Linked DNA regions of Homo sapiens. The protein of the gene in region 1 purifies or fractionates together with the protein of each later gene. This does not show direct contact. Each region holds a gene or a part of one and is shown in the gene's direction. Other genes may lie near its edges.

What was found. Proteins that work in one complex are often made in the same cells at the same time.
Region 2: the proteins of SOCS7 (region 1) and FAT3 purify together in Homo sapiens (affinity purification with mass spectrometry; one large-scale study listed by BioGRID and IntAct). This does not show direct contact.
Region 3: the proteins of SOCS7 (region 1) and STAT5A purify together in Homo sapiens (affinity purification with western blotting, with the first as the bait; one study listed by BioGRID). This does not show direct contact.
Region 4: the proteins of SOCS7 (region 1) and CELSR2 purify together in Homo sapiens (affinity purification with mass spectrometry; one large-scale study listed by BioGRID and IntAct). This does not show direct contact.

The regions. Positions count from the first base shown.
Region 1 is NC_000017.11:38,361,844-38,365,343, forward strand, and holds part of SOCS7 (suppressor of cytokine signaling 7), read left to right. Parts: intron 1-2,908; coding exon 2,909-3,013; intron 3,014-3,464; coding exon 3,465-3,500. UniProt on the Homo sapiens protein: Substrate-recognition component of a cullin-5-RING E3 ubiquitin-protein ligase complex (ECS complex, also named CRL5 complex), which mediates the ubiquitination and subsequent proteasomal degradation of target proteins, such as DAB1 and IRS1.
Region 2 is NC_000011.10:92,231,318-92,234,817, forward strand, and holds part of FAT3 (protocadherin Fat 3 isoform 1 precursor), read left to right. Parts: intron 1-3,500.
Region 3 is NC_000017.11:42,305,498-42,308,970, forward strand, and holds part of STAT5A (signal transducer and activator of transcription 5A), read left to right. Parts: intron 1-112; coding exon 113-205; intron 206-743; coding exon 744-950; intron 951-1,904; coding exon 1,905-1,999; intron 2,000-2,095; coding exon 2,096-2,226; intron 2,227-2,680; coding exon 2,681-2,836; intron 2,837-3,473. UniProt on the Homo sapiens protein: Carries out a dual function: signal transduction and activation of transcription. Mediates cellular responses to the cytokine KITLG/SCF and other growth factors. Mediates cellular responses to ERBB4.
Region 4 is NC_000001.11:109,266,539-109,270,038, forward strand, and holds part of CELSR2 (cadherin EGF LAG seven-pass G-type receptor 2 precursor), read left to right. Parts: intron 1-1,009; coding exon 1,010-1,104; intron 1,105-1,312; coding exon 1,313-1,522; intron 1,523-2,042; coding exon 2,043-2,226; intron 2,227-2,341; coding exon 2,342-2,470; intron 2,471-2,571; coding exon 2,572-2,752; intron 2,753-2,885; coding exon 2,886-3,053; intron 3,054-3,155; coding exon 3,156-3,282; intron 3,283-3,394; coding exon 3,395-3,500. UniProt on the Homo sapiens protein: Receptor that may have an important role in cell/cell signaling during nervous system formation.

The DNA.
Region 1 (3,500 bases):
CTTACAGATGCATCACAGGGAGCTGTAGGCGTGTCTGCAGTTATTTCCTTCATTCCATGCTTAGTGGGTTTGGGGTGAGGCTATTTTTATGGTATGGAATGTGTTCTTGACTTTGGATGCTTTATAGTTGGAGGTAAAGGCTGCTTGTTGGTAATTAGGTGGCCTGGGTGGCCCTAGCAGTTATGCAGTGCTTAGTTCAGGGTCATCACATATAAATTAAAACTAGGAATTACAAATTTATGGGCTCACAGTGCATAAAAGACTCTCTAGAAGTCATACAATTTCTGTCTCTGCTTCCAAGGGAGTTCATGGGTTATCTCATAAAAATGATCCATGATTATCTGGTCTATTTTTAAAGACTTTTTTGGGCAAAGGGGATTACATGAGCTCTTGTCTTTTTAGGGGCTTGCAGTTCCTGCAGCTGTTAGACTTCTTTATTGTATCTAATTTAAGTCTGCCCTCTTGCAGCAGGGAACACAGTTGCTAAACTAGGAAGGCTGTAGAATCTCCTTTGGATGATGGGTAACTGCCTTCTCGTTTCGTAGGGAGCTTTTTCAGAGAGGGAGACCTTCTGTTATGTCAGTCACAGGTGAAGCTCCTGCATGAATAAGCTGGAGAAAAGTGGGGCTTTGCCCATGTCTCAGAAACTGAGTACTTCTCATTGGTTGTGACTGAGAAGCCTTTAAAAAAAATCCCAATCTCAAACTCCTTTGGATATCATGTCCCTCAAAAAGGTGATTGGAAGACTTACGATTTGGGAATGGATGCTTCCAGGAAAATGTTAAGCAGGCCAATGAGACTTGCAGCTGGGTAGACTGCTGTGAACTGTCAAAACAAGTGAATTGGTACCTGTATAGGCATCTACTGTAGTGGAGAAGGAGGTCTCTGTTCTTACCCAAGCCCAGAATTAAAAAATCTTATCTTGCGATACCATGTCTTTCTAGTTAATAGTTGTTTCCTCATTAAAGTAAGGAACATGGCTTGGTCACGGTCACGGTGGCTCATGCCTATAATCCCAGCACTTTGGGAGGTTGAAGTGAGCAGATCATCTGAGGTCAGGTGTTTCAGACCAGCCTGGCCAACATGGTGTGAAACCCCGTCTCTACTAAAAATACAAAAAATTAGCTGGGGCATGGTGCCGCACGCCTGTAGTCCAGCTACTCGGGAGGCCGAGGCAGGAGAATCGCTTGAACCCGAGAGGCTGAGGTTGCAGTAAGCAGAGATTTTGCCACTGCACTCCAGCCTGAGCGACTGAGCCTCTGTCTCAAAAAAAAAAAAGGAACACCACCTACATTTGTAGTTTGAGGTTCAGGTCAGCCTCAGCCCTCTTGAATGACGTCCTTTATGTTAAGTGCTCTACCAATAGTCTAGACTGCTCTGGCCTGTCAGGAAATACACTTGTCTGGCTCCATCGCATTGCTCTGGGCAGCCAGGCTTTCAGTTACCAAGCTGTATGGTGAGTCTGGTACCAGCTTTCTAGAACTTCCACTGATGGCTTTTGTTTATTTTTGACACAGGGCCTCACTTTGTCTCCCAGGCTGGAGTGCAATGGTGCAGTCTCAGCTTACTGCAGCCTCGACCTCCTAGGCCCAAACGATCCTCCCACCTCAGCCTCCAGAATAGCTGGGACTATAGGCATGCACCACCATACCTGAATAATTTTTATATTTTTGTAGAGACGGGGTCTTAACGTGTTGCCCAGGCTGGTCTTGAACTCCTGAGTGCAAGTGATTCGCCTACCTTGGCCTCCCAAAGTGTTGGAATTACAGGTGTGACCCACTGCACCTGGTCTCACTGATGACTTTTAGAAGAGCTTTTCTGTTTATCTTAATTAGTATTCAAGAGCTTTGTAAAAAAACTGTGTATTTAGGTTCTGAAAGCCCAGTTTCCTTTGGTAGATATTGGTCACCTCATTTTCTTAACGGGGAAACATTTAAAATACTAGCTGAGGGGCTCATTCAGCCCTGAATTAAAAAAAAAGGTGTTGGAAGGAACACCGTAAGGGCTAAATTAGAGAAATCCTGAGTTCTGACTTGTGCATCAGGCCTGCCAAAATAACCGTATTCCTGGCTATCAGCTTGTGTTCATATTAATAAAATACCTTTCATCCTCTCGTGACTCAAGTGGAGAGGGAATAGACAGAGTTGGGTGGCAAGGAGTATTGTATATGGCAGGGAACAGAACTGCATGACATGCTGGGAAGAAGAGAGGCCATGTGCCTCCTCCCACCAAGTTCCTATGGAGAAGCTGCCTCTTAGATTACCTGACTTTTGTCTGACTGTGAAAGTAGTTAATTTTTAGGACTATAAATTGTACTTTCAGCCTTTGTAGCCTCAGCTGTTAAGAACAGATATCTTATTCAGGTAGATTCTCTTATGTGTGAATACTCTGGAAAATCAAGATATGGACTGCCCTCTAGGAAGAAGTTAGGACTAACATTGGGAACTTTATCTGCATTCAGCTTACCGTACAGTTCTTAGGTTTTCTGGCCCTTGCTTTCCATGTCTGTTTGGGCATATAACAAGCCACTTGGCTTGCTTCCTAAGGCAGAAATTGATACACAATTCTGAAAAAATAAATGGTATGGGTTCTATTGGATAAAGAAGACCCCTTGTTTGAGGGTACGTTGTAAGTCAGTGGCGGAACCAGAATTAGATGGTTTTTCCACTGTCAGTCCCATGGTTTTGTCCTAAAGAATCCTTGACCCTTAACAGGGCAAAGGAATGATAGAATTTAAAAATTGACTTCCTGGTGTTGGGGTGATTTCAGCCCTGGGGGCATTAGGTTTTGAGCTTTCTGAGAGCAGCAGACCCCCAGCCTCGCCTGCTTGCCCTTTGCTTCCCTTTGCTTTCTGCATCAGCTTTGGGCAAGGCGCTTCTGTAACTTGCTTGCTCCATGAATCCCTCAGGTGAAACTGTGTCGCTTGTGGATGTGGACATTTCTCAGCGGGGCCTGACCTCTCCACACCCTCCAACTCCCCCTCCTCCTCCGAGAAGAAGCCTCAGCCTCCTAGGTATAGTTTCTTCCCCTCTCCACCTTCTTGCCTAGTGGGAGGGTGAGCTCCAGGGACTTGTTCTTTGCTGGGGGCCGACCACGCTTCTGGGTTTCCGATGATGACTCAATTATTTCCCAGCTCTTTCTCAGCACCCCGTCATCTCCCTAAGCAATTAAATGGGTCTCACCCGCATGCTGTAATACTTACTATACATATATTAATTCAGTTTACATTTATCTTGCCTTGAACCCACTGCTATTGGGCTGCATTAGGAATATCCTTACTACCCTGCTTTCCAAAAGCAAAACAGAGTAAGATGATTGTTGCCCTCTGTGCAAAAAGACTGGGTGAAGGTTGGGCCATCCTGCCCCAGAGGGCAGCCTGATAGTCCTTCTCCCTCTCCTCTGCCTTCAGCGTGCTCATTCTGTGCTCACATTTCTGAACCTCTTGCTTTTGTTCTCTCTTCTAGATGATATCAGTGGGACGCTGCCTACATCTGTCCTTG
Region 2 (3,500 bases), on another chromosome or scaffold:
AAAAAATTTGTAAAAAATGGCTTACAAAGTAACATTAGCTTCCAGAATGTGAGTGAAAAGGCAGACTTTTACCTTGGACGTTCTCTATGACTTGATCCTACTTGTACTTTTCAGAGCAGTTGCAAATAATATTTCAGTTAATTCTTTCTTTCTTTTCTTTTTTGAGATGTTGGAGATAAGCCCAGCTGTTGAATGAGGCACAGTTATGAAAGGTTAAGTGGAAGTTTAATTGTAACTTCAGGACTTCAACTAAATTAAATTCCAAACAATCTGAAAAAAATTGTAGCCTTTTCAGTACCATGGAAGGTCAAAAAGTGAGCACTCTGGAGCAGCTATTGATGTTTTATATTTTGAGATAAGCCCCAAATTATTAATGCTACTAAATATCATTGAACATTATTTGATAATTGTAAACATCTAAGAGTATGCCAGATGACACAGATTAAATTTAGTGACAAATGTGCTTAATGACAGTATAAATATCAGGGTTTTTTTTTTTTGTCAGATAAATTCTATGTAAGTCTGTGTGTGTTTTCTTTCAAAGCAAAATGAGGCTATATCTTGGTAGCAGGATCAGCTTGGTCTTTTTTGAAACCTAGAGCATTTATCACACATGACATTTTGTTGATTTTTTAAGTCTATGTGATCAATATTTTGGACCTCTGAAATCTATTTTTGATTGTGGTTTGAAATTCTCTGTTGGTTCTAAGTGGTGGCTTAATGATAGCAGTTGCTGTTGTGATTGGGTGAGCAGTGTGTTATGTGATTCATGTGGTACCGTCCCATGCTAGGGTGGATTTTGCAGCTAGGGTTTTCTCAGATTGGCCTGGCTATGGAGAACTTCACTGCAAAGAAATGTACACATGAAAGTGGGCCAAATGCAGATGACTTTAACATCGCCCATGTTATGGATAGAATGGGGTGTGAATCTTTCCCACACTTTCCACTTAAAAAAAAAACCTTTGCTAATAACAGTTTCAATCAAATGAATAAGAATTCAGAAGTGTGTGGTAATCTCTCTTGAGAATTTGGTACCTATCTGATAGGACTGTAAAGGCATTTCAGAATGTCAATTAAATGGAAAAATATGCCTGGAATTGAATATAATTAAGAAATGTTGAAGTCTGGTGTCTACATATTCAGACACTGTATAAGATGGTTTAATTAGTGAACAAGGATTTGGATTTATTGACAGAAGGTCTCTTTCTCATGGCATGTTTCACTCATTAAAAGCTCATAATGTCTTGGATCTTTTTAGCTGTTGGAACTTGACCATTTGTCATTTTGTGCTTCTTGACTTCAGTGATGTCGTTTTTTTTTTTTTTTTTTTTTTTTTTGTTTAACTGTGCAACTGATTAGGATGATGTTGCTTCTCTCATTGATGATTATTTCCATGGAGTGGACGCATGGTGTCTTGTAAACATTATGAAGCATCACCAAAGCACTAGGCAAAACTCAGTACCTCTGAAAAACAACAATTGGGAGGTAGAATTATTATTGTGGAATTTTTGGCCTAGCAACTTAGAAGTAATTAGAGTAACTTCCTCTTTATAACTACTAGCTTTATATTATATTTACCTGATGGCAGAATTTACATTTAAATTCACATTTCTCTACATCTCTCTCAGTTTTTCAGTTAATGGTTTATTAGTTTAAATCCTTTTTATTCCTGACTGTTGGGCTGAAACAGTTTCTAATCATACAGAAGACTGAAATTCTTTTTTAATATTCTTGTTGTTGGATATATTTCTTTTTGAACTGCATTTGATGATTATAAGTGCCTGAAAGAACTGCAGTTAGTAAAGAGAGAACTTGGGAATGTTGACAAGTGAGGTAGGGAGAAACATGGTTCAGTTAGTCCTTGAGGATTTTTCATTACCTGTTTATAACTTAGATTTTGGCTGTCTCCTATACTGGTACTAATGTGAACAGCTACTTTATAAGATTTTTTAATTCCTCATCTTCATAGGTATGTTCTCTAAGTCAGAGCTATTTAAAGTAATCTAGCGTTCCATCTTTCCTGTAGACATAGCAGATCATTCACAGTCTGGTTGAACTAAGTACACATTACATCGTTGGTCGTTTTGGTGGCATGTGCTGGGTTCTTCAGGCCCGTGTCATTGTTGGCAAAGTATACTAAGAGTGCTACTATTATCTTGGACTAATTTTTTCATGGAGCATATTAAATAAATGTGGTGTCTGACCCTTCAAAAGTTAGCTTCCTCACCTGAGTGATGTTCAGCTAAATAGGTATAAGTCGTAATGTATGTGTGATCCTAAGTCAGTAAGATGGTGAACTGAAGTGACATCATCTGCTTGGAAGTCCCTGGATTAACAATGGGACTTATATTTATATTCAGAAGACAACTGCTACAATGAGGAAATTGGGCAATCTAGGCAATTGAACAATTGAATGGGAAATGTAAGACAAAACATATTATATTGCCAGATCAATTCCCTAGATCTTGTTGAATTATACGATAATTAGATAATCTTCTTTTATTTGGAAGTGTACATTTTGTAAGTGTAATAACTTGCAATAATCACTTTATTCCTAAGTTGTATTCAGCAGTGCACATGTTGTGTTCAGTTTACATTCTGCATATTTTTGTTAAATAGGTAGTATTAATAACATATTTTACCTCATATCCAAAGAGAAAGAGGGAGATGCAGGTATTTTGAGATTTATCACTTTCATACAGCTCATCAGTGGTTACTATAATAATCCAAGTGAATAAACCTAGATTGTTCTTTATACAATAGATATGTTTTTAAACATTGAGTGTAAATGACATTTTTCAAAACAAATCACATCTTAAATGCTTTCAACTAGGGAAAATACACTCTTTATTTAAACAGATGTGGCAAATTATTTTTATAAAGTAAATAACAATTTGTCTCTCTTACATTTATCTGTTTTTTAAGTTTAGATTTTGTATATTAAATTTCTCAAAGAGATGCAAGAGTGTATACATATTGGAAATACGTTTTTGTTCAAATATATAATAAAATGAAAGAGTTTGACCTTCTCCCTCAGTACTGCTTTGACGAGAAGTGGCATCAGAGGGGAAAATAAAGGGAGAAGATGGAACTAGAATGAGAAAAAACAGAAATGTCCACCTAGTTTATGGAGATGTTGAGGAAATGTTAAAGTTTAAGAATTTCTGGGCCAGGAGTGGTGGCTCACGCCTGTAATCCCAGCACTTTGGGAGGCTGAGGCAGGCAGATCACCTGAGGTCAGCAGTTCGAGACCTGCCTGGCCAACATATAGTGAAACTCCGTCTCTACTAAAAAATACAAAAATTGCCAGGCACGGTGGCTCATGCCTGTAATCCCAGCATTTTGGGAGGCCGAGACCAGTGGATCACAAGGTCAGGAGTTCAAGATCAGCCTGACCAACATGGTGAAACCGTATCTCTACTAAAAATATAAAAATTAGCCAGGTGTGGTGGTGGGTGCCTGTAATCCCAGCTACTCAGGAGACTGAGACAGGAGAATCT
Region 3 (3,473 bases), 3.9 Mb from region 1:
ATATCAAAAAAAAAAATACATAAAAAAAAATAAAGCAGATTGGGCATGTTGCCTAAGCAGAGGGCACGTGGTGGTCACGCCCCATCAACTTGGGTTCCTTTGACTCCTGTAGACTCTGTCCCTACCTGTGGTTGTCATCGTCCACGGCAGCCAGGACCACAATGCCACGGCTACTGTGCTGTGGGACAATGCCTTTGCTGAGCCGGTGAGTCCCCGTGGGAGCCCTACCCCAGCACCCCCAGGCCCTAGGACTCACCTGGGGTCAGCCCCACCCCTTGGGCCCCTGCTGAGTGGTCCTTCCTCACCCCAGGGCCAGCCCAGAGGTGAGGTGAGGCCAGAAGGGCTGGGGTGCTGGGCGCCTGCCTTCCACCATGGCCTTGGCACTCTGGGTTCCAGGTTCCTGGACTGGGGTCTGTGAGGACTGTGAGCTTGGTCTTTGGATCCTGGTCTGGGATCCTCCTTTGGCAGATGGCTTGGGTCCTTGCTCTCTGTTTTCTGTTTCCTGGTCTGCATCTCTGTCCCTGCATGCCCCCACCCCCTGCATCGGTTTTCTTCCCTGCAGGCTGGGAAAAAAAGTGCAAGCTAGTATATAAAAGCCGCCGCATTTCCTGCCCTTGCATTTGTGTCACCTTTCTGGATCTGTCTCAGTCTCCTCTGTCTCTAGGTGTCTGTGTATCTTGTGTGTGTGTGAATATTTCCAACTCCCTCAATCTACCTTTTCCCCTCTCTTGTCTCCCTCTCAGGGCAGGGTGCCATTTGCCGTGCCTGACAAAGTGCTGTGGCCGCAGCTGTGTGAGGCGCTCAACATGAAATTCAAGGCCGAAGTGCAGAGCAACCGGGGCCTGACCAAGGAGAACCTCGTGTTCCTGGCGCAGAAACTGTTCAACAACAGCAGCAGCCACCTGGAGGACTACAGTGGCCTGTCCGTGTCCTGGTCCCAGTTCAACAGGGTGAGGGGCCCAGCTGCCAGCCGCCCACCAGGGCCCACCGGGGTCTGTTGCTCCTCCACCTCACAGACAGGTTACTGCCTGGGGCTAGCACCCCACTCTCCACCCCCAACCACTCTCTCCTACAACCAGGAGAGATGGGGGCCCCTAGCCTCAAGAAATGCAGGCAGGGGCTATAGGAGTTGTGCTTAGTTGTGAAGCCAAGAGCGAGATGACGGAGGGCCCAGGGCTGGGAGTCAGGATCCTTGGGTTCTGGGCCTAGATGTGTTTGCTAATTTTCTTTTTTTTTTTTAGAGACAGAATCTCATTCTGTCACCCAGGCTGGAGTGCAGTGGCGTGATTTCAGCTTACTGTAACCTCTGCCTCCCGGGTTCAAGTGATTCTCGTGCCTCAGCCTCCTGAGTAGCTGGAATTATAGGTGCCTGCCACCATGCTGGGCTAATTTTTGTATTTTTAGTAGAGATGGGGTTTCACCATGTTGGTCAGGCTGGTCTCGAACTCCTGACCTCAGGTGATCCGCCCACCTCGGCCTCCCAAAGTGCTGGGATTACAGGCGTGAGCCACCACGCCTGTGGCTCTGGCTCTCCTTCTGCCTCTCTCCTTGCTAATTTTTGAAGACCCATCCATTCTCTGTGCCTCAGTTTCCCCACCTGTAAAATGAGGGGATGACTTTGGAGGAATGACTTTGGAGGCCCCATCCAGCCTAGATTATTCTTTACACCTCTTACTCCCACCCTTGGGCTGGTCTTGGACCCCTGTGTCTTAGAAGTGAGTTTCCTCTCTGTTTTCCTAGGGTACAAGTTGGGGGCTGTGTCACTTTATGGTCTGCTGGAGTGTGGTGGCAAGCAGGGGTGAAGAACTGGGAGAAGACTGGGTGGGGGCAGGAGGGCCCTGACTTTCCTGGGCCACCTGTGACCTGGGGCACCAGCCCTGACTCGGGGGTTCCTGGGCCCTCAGGAGAACTTGCCGGGCTGGAACTACACCTTCTGGCAGTGGTTTGACGGGGTGATGGAGGTGTTGAAGAAGCACCACAAGCCCCACTGGAATGATGGGTAAGGAACGGGGGCTGCAGGGTCAGGGGCCAGCTGTGGGCGCAGAGAGACTGTGGCTGTGGCCCAGTGGTGACGCTCAATGCTCCGTGCACCCAGGGCCATCCTAGGTTTTGTGAATAAGCAACAGGCCCACGACCTGCTCATCAACAAGCCCGACGGGACCTTCTTGTTGCGCTTTAGTGACTCAGAAATCGGGGGCATCACCATCGCCTGGAAGTTTGACTCCCGTGAGTGCCCGTTTTGCCCACACTCCAGCCCCAAGGCCCGGTCTCTTGTTCCCTTGCCCCGCCACCCCACCCTCCATCGGGCCTGTGTCCTTAGAAGGTACCCAGCGGGAAGCTTAGTATGAGAGGGCTGTGGCTTGGAAATGTATTCTCTTTCTATTGTTTTCCATTTTGGAGAACCTGAAGTCCCCAGCCCCATAGACTCCAGGACGGCTGGGCGAGTCCTCCTGCAGTTTCACGCTCTCCCCTCTCTGCCACGACCCAGCCTTGTTGGTATCTGCTCATCTGGTTTGCTGAGTAGAACATCCCGCATCGGCTTTCTTCCCTACAGGCTGGGGCTGCAGCGCAAGCTACTATATAAAAGCCCAGATTTCTCTTGCAAGCCTGCCCTAAAGCCCCACAACCTTGGTCCTCCTGCTGCTGGTGGATTATGGGAATGAGGCTGTTCTTTTCACAGCGGAACGCAACCTGTGGAACCTGAAACCATTCACCACGCGGGATTTCTCCATCAGGTCCCTGGCTGACCGGCTGGGGGACCTGAGCTATCTCATCTATGTGTTTCCTGACCGCCCCAAGGATGAGGTCTTCTCCAAGTACTACACTCCTGTGCTGGGTGGGTACTGCCCCAGGACCCTGCCGGCTGACTCCCCCGGGCTCTTCCCCAGCCCATAGACAAAGCCTTGGGCTGCGCCGTGGGGACTTCCCCAGGAGGAGCCTAGGGGCCATGTCCCCTGTGGGTTTTGGCCCATGGGGTGGTGGAGAGGATTTCAGGGCTCACAAATGAGGAGAGGGAACGAGAAACCCGTCCCAGCTCTCTTCTCTGCAAAGTGAAAGCTGCATGGATTCTCACTTCTGCACCCTCGGAGGAAGGGGTGGCAGCACTGTAGGGAGTGGCCGGGATCATTCGAGCCCACAGATAGTGCTCCGCTCCCCACCTCACCAGCTGCTCTCCACACCCTGCTCACAAACCTTCCCCCGAGTGGAGTGCAGGCAGCAAAAGGGAGAAGTCTCTCTTCTTCCAGCTGCCCCAAATCCATTGGTTGGGTTTGCTTGTTGATTCTCATTCTTTGACAGGGGTGGGAGCAGGGAGAGGGAAATCAGATGGCCAGAAAAAGAACCAGAAGGAATGGGATTCAAGCCAGGGGTCTCAGTGACCCTCAGGCAGGATTCATCAGCTGGTGTTTATTGGGGGTCCTTGGGAAATCTCATCCCAGCTGAGAACACAAGGTGATGTGAGCAGGAGGGAGACT
Region 4 (3,500 bases), on another chromosome or scaffold:
GCCGCCACCACACCTGGCTAATTTTTTTTTTTTTTTTTTTTTTTTTGTATTTTTAGTAGAGACAGGGTTTCACCATGTTGGCCAGTCTGGTCTCGAACTCCTGACCTCATGATCCGCCTGCCTCGGCCTCCCAAAGTGCTGGGATTACAGGCGTGAGCCACTGCACCCCACCACATTTTGGACTTTTTTTTTTTTTTTTTGAGACGGAGTCTCGCTCTGTCATCAGGCTACAATGCAGTGGCATGATCTCGGCTCTCTGCAACCTCCACCTCACAGGTTCAAGCGATTCTCCTACCTCAGCCTTCCGAGTAGCTGGTACTACAGGCGTGTGCTACCATGCCCAGCTAATTTTTTATATTTTTTTAGTAGAGACAGGGTTTCACCATGTTGGCCAGGATGGTCTCGATCTCTTGACCTTGTGATCAGCCCGCCTCGGCCTCCCAAAGTGCCGAGATTACAGGCGTGAGCCACCGTGCCCAGCCCACATCTTGGACTCTTAACAAAAATGCTGAAAAACCTGCACTGTGCTTGGCATAGGGCTGTGCTAGAGATTCAAAGATGAATCATGCAGGGTTCCAATCGTCAGCTCACCACCGAGTCCTGGAGTTACGCCACCACAAAGGCAGACAGTCTGGGGAGTAGGGGGTGTTGGCTGCTGACCCAGGACACCCAGCCCAGGATGGGGGCTGGCGCTGGTCCTGGACTGGCAATGAGCAGGTTCATAGGCAGGAAGTGGCGGAGAGCACAAAGTGGTGGCTGGAGACAGGCAGGATGGGGGCTCAAGGAGGTCGTATGCCCTGTTCCCCTAGAGCCCATGTGTGGACTGATCTTGCGGAGATTTTTGGCCCTGGTGTTCTACATACCTGTCTTCCTGTTTCACCAGGGCCCTTGTTTGCTAGTTACTGTCCCCGGCCCATGAGGTGCTGGCCTCCAGCAGAACCTCTCAGCCAGTCTCAGGGGCTTCCTGTGTGTCTCCCTGAGGCCGGCCCTTTTGGCTTCCTTCCCCCAGGGACTGCTGTGCGCCACTGTGATGAGCACAGGGGGTGGCTCCCCCCAAACCTCTTCAACTGCACGTCCATCACCTTCTCAGAACTGAAGGGCTTCGTAAGTGAACCCCCTCATCTCCATCTTTTCCCTGTCCTTCGTCCTGAGTCTCACTTGCCCCCACTCCCATCTTTGAGAACGGGGCTTCTGGAATTCCAGCCTGTGTGTTCCTGGGCTCCCAGCTGGAGAGGCCGTCTCTCACCTCCTGAGGTCCTTTTGCTCCAGAGTTCCTGCCCTCACTCCTGCTCCTCCGCTCCGTCCTGTCTAGGCTGAGCGGCTACAGCGGAATGAGTCAGGCCTAGACTCAGGGCGCTCCCAGCAGCTAGCCCTGCTCCTGCGCAACGCCACGCAGCACACAGCTGGCTACTTCGGCAGCGACGTCAAGGTGGCCTACCAGCTGGCCACGCGGCTGCTGGCCCACGAGAGCACCCAGCGGGGCTTTGGGCTGTCTGCCACACAGGACGTGCACTTCACTGAGGTGGGGCTTGGAGGATGCAGGGCTGGCTGGTTAGATAGGGGTCATGGTGAGTGAGCCTGCTCATGGCAACCTGGGGGGCAGAGGGGGCCCTCCCATCCCACCTACAAGGAGCTCCCTGCTGGCAGGAGGCCTCCATGAAACCCTGTGACCCCTGGCCCAGCCCTCTTCCCAACCCTTCTCATAGTAACATATGTGTGTTGGGGCATGGTCTGACCCAGAGCAGAGGCCTGCCTGTGGTACCATGGGCTGGGAGGAAGCAGTATCTCAGGACATGTGTGTGGGTCCAGGCACAGGGCTGGGAAGCTCTTATGTAGAGAATGAGGAGGAGGGCTTAGGGGCAGAGCATCCAGTGACCTGAGTGGGCAGTGCGGTCCAGGAGCATTTCAGGGGAGGCAACAGTGAGCACAGAGGGAGGGGCCTGGTGGGGAGCAGGGACTGGCCCGGGCACAGGCCGGGGCTCCATGGTGGGGATGTCAGGTGTGGGTTGTGAGCACACCCACCGTGACCTTGCCCACCCCAGAATCTGCTGCGGGTGGGCAGCGCCCTCCTGGACACAGCCAACAAGCGGCACTGGGAGCTGATCCAGCAGACAGAGGGTGGCACCGCCTGGCTGCTCCAGCACTATGAGGCCTACGCCAGTGCCCTGGCCCAGAACATGCGGCACACCTACCTAAGCCCCTTCACCATCGTCACGCCCAACATTGGTAAGGCTGGTGCCTGGGTTGGGGAGGGGTTTGTGGAGGGAGTCCCCGACAAGAGCGGCTGTGCTGGGGTCCTGCCTGCCTCACAGGTCCGATCTGTGACCATCCCCTTCCTTAGTCATCTCCGTAGTGCGCTTGGACAAAGGGAACTTTGCTGGGGCCAAGCTGCCCCGCTACGAGGCCCTGCGTGGGGAGCAGCCCCCGGACCTTGAGACAACAGTCATTCTGCCTGAGTCTGTCTTCAGAGGTCAGTGGTGGCCATGGATTGAGTTGGGAGCTGGACCCCAGTGTCTGTGCAGACTCCACAGAGAGCAGGGCCCAGCTAAGTGTGACAGTGTCCCCTCCCAGAGACGCCCCCCGTGGTCAGGCCCGCAGGCCCCGGAGAGGCCCAGGAGCCAGAGGAGCTGGCACGGCGACAGCGACGGCACCCGGAGCTGAGCCAGGGTGAGGCTGTGGCCAGCGTCATCATCTACCGCACCCTGGCCGGGCTACTGCCTCATAACTATGACCCTGACAAGCGCAGCTTGAGGTCAGCAGCTAGGGGACAGGTGTGGGTAGGGGTATGGGTCGGGCGGTGAGTGCTGAGGCATGGAGGGGGTCGGGGGCGTCTCCCCAGTCATGTGACTGCCGTGGTGACTGTGCACCTGACTGCCCCACATCAGAGTCCCCAAACGCCCGATCATCAACACACCCGTGGTGAGCATCAGCGTCCATGATGATGAGGAGCTTCTGCCCCGGGCCCTGGACAAACCCGTCACGGTGCAGTTCCGCCTGCTGGAGACAGAGGAGCGGACCAAGCCCATCTGTGTCTTCTGGAACCATTCAATCCTGTGAGCCTGCACTGCCCTCGCCCCCTCAGGCTTCGGGCTGAAAGTCCAGGCCCCTGCATGCCTCACCCTCCTTGTCTCCCTGACCCTGCCTTCCTCACACAGGGTCAGTGGCACAGGTGGCTGGTCGGCCAGAGGCTGTGAAGTCGTCTTCCGCAATGAGAGCCACGTCAGCTGCCAGTGCAACCACATGACGAGCTTCGCTGTGCTCATGGACGTTTCTCGGCGGGAGGTCGGGCCCACAGGGGCAGCTGCAGAGCCGTGGGTGGGCACCCAGGGCACGGGGCTGGGTGCTCAGGTCCTGCCCTTCCTAATTCCCTGGCCCCCTGCCACCTACTCTGCAGAATGGGGAGATCCTGCCACTGAAGACACTGACATACGTGGCTCTAGGTGTCACCTTGGCTGCCCTTCTGCTCACCTTCTTCTTCCTCACTCTCTTGCGTATCCTGC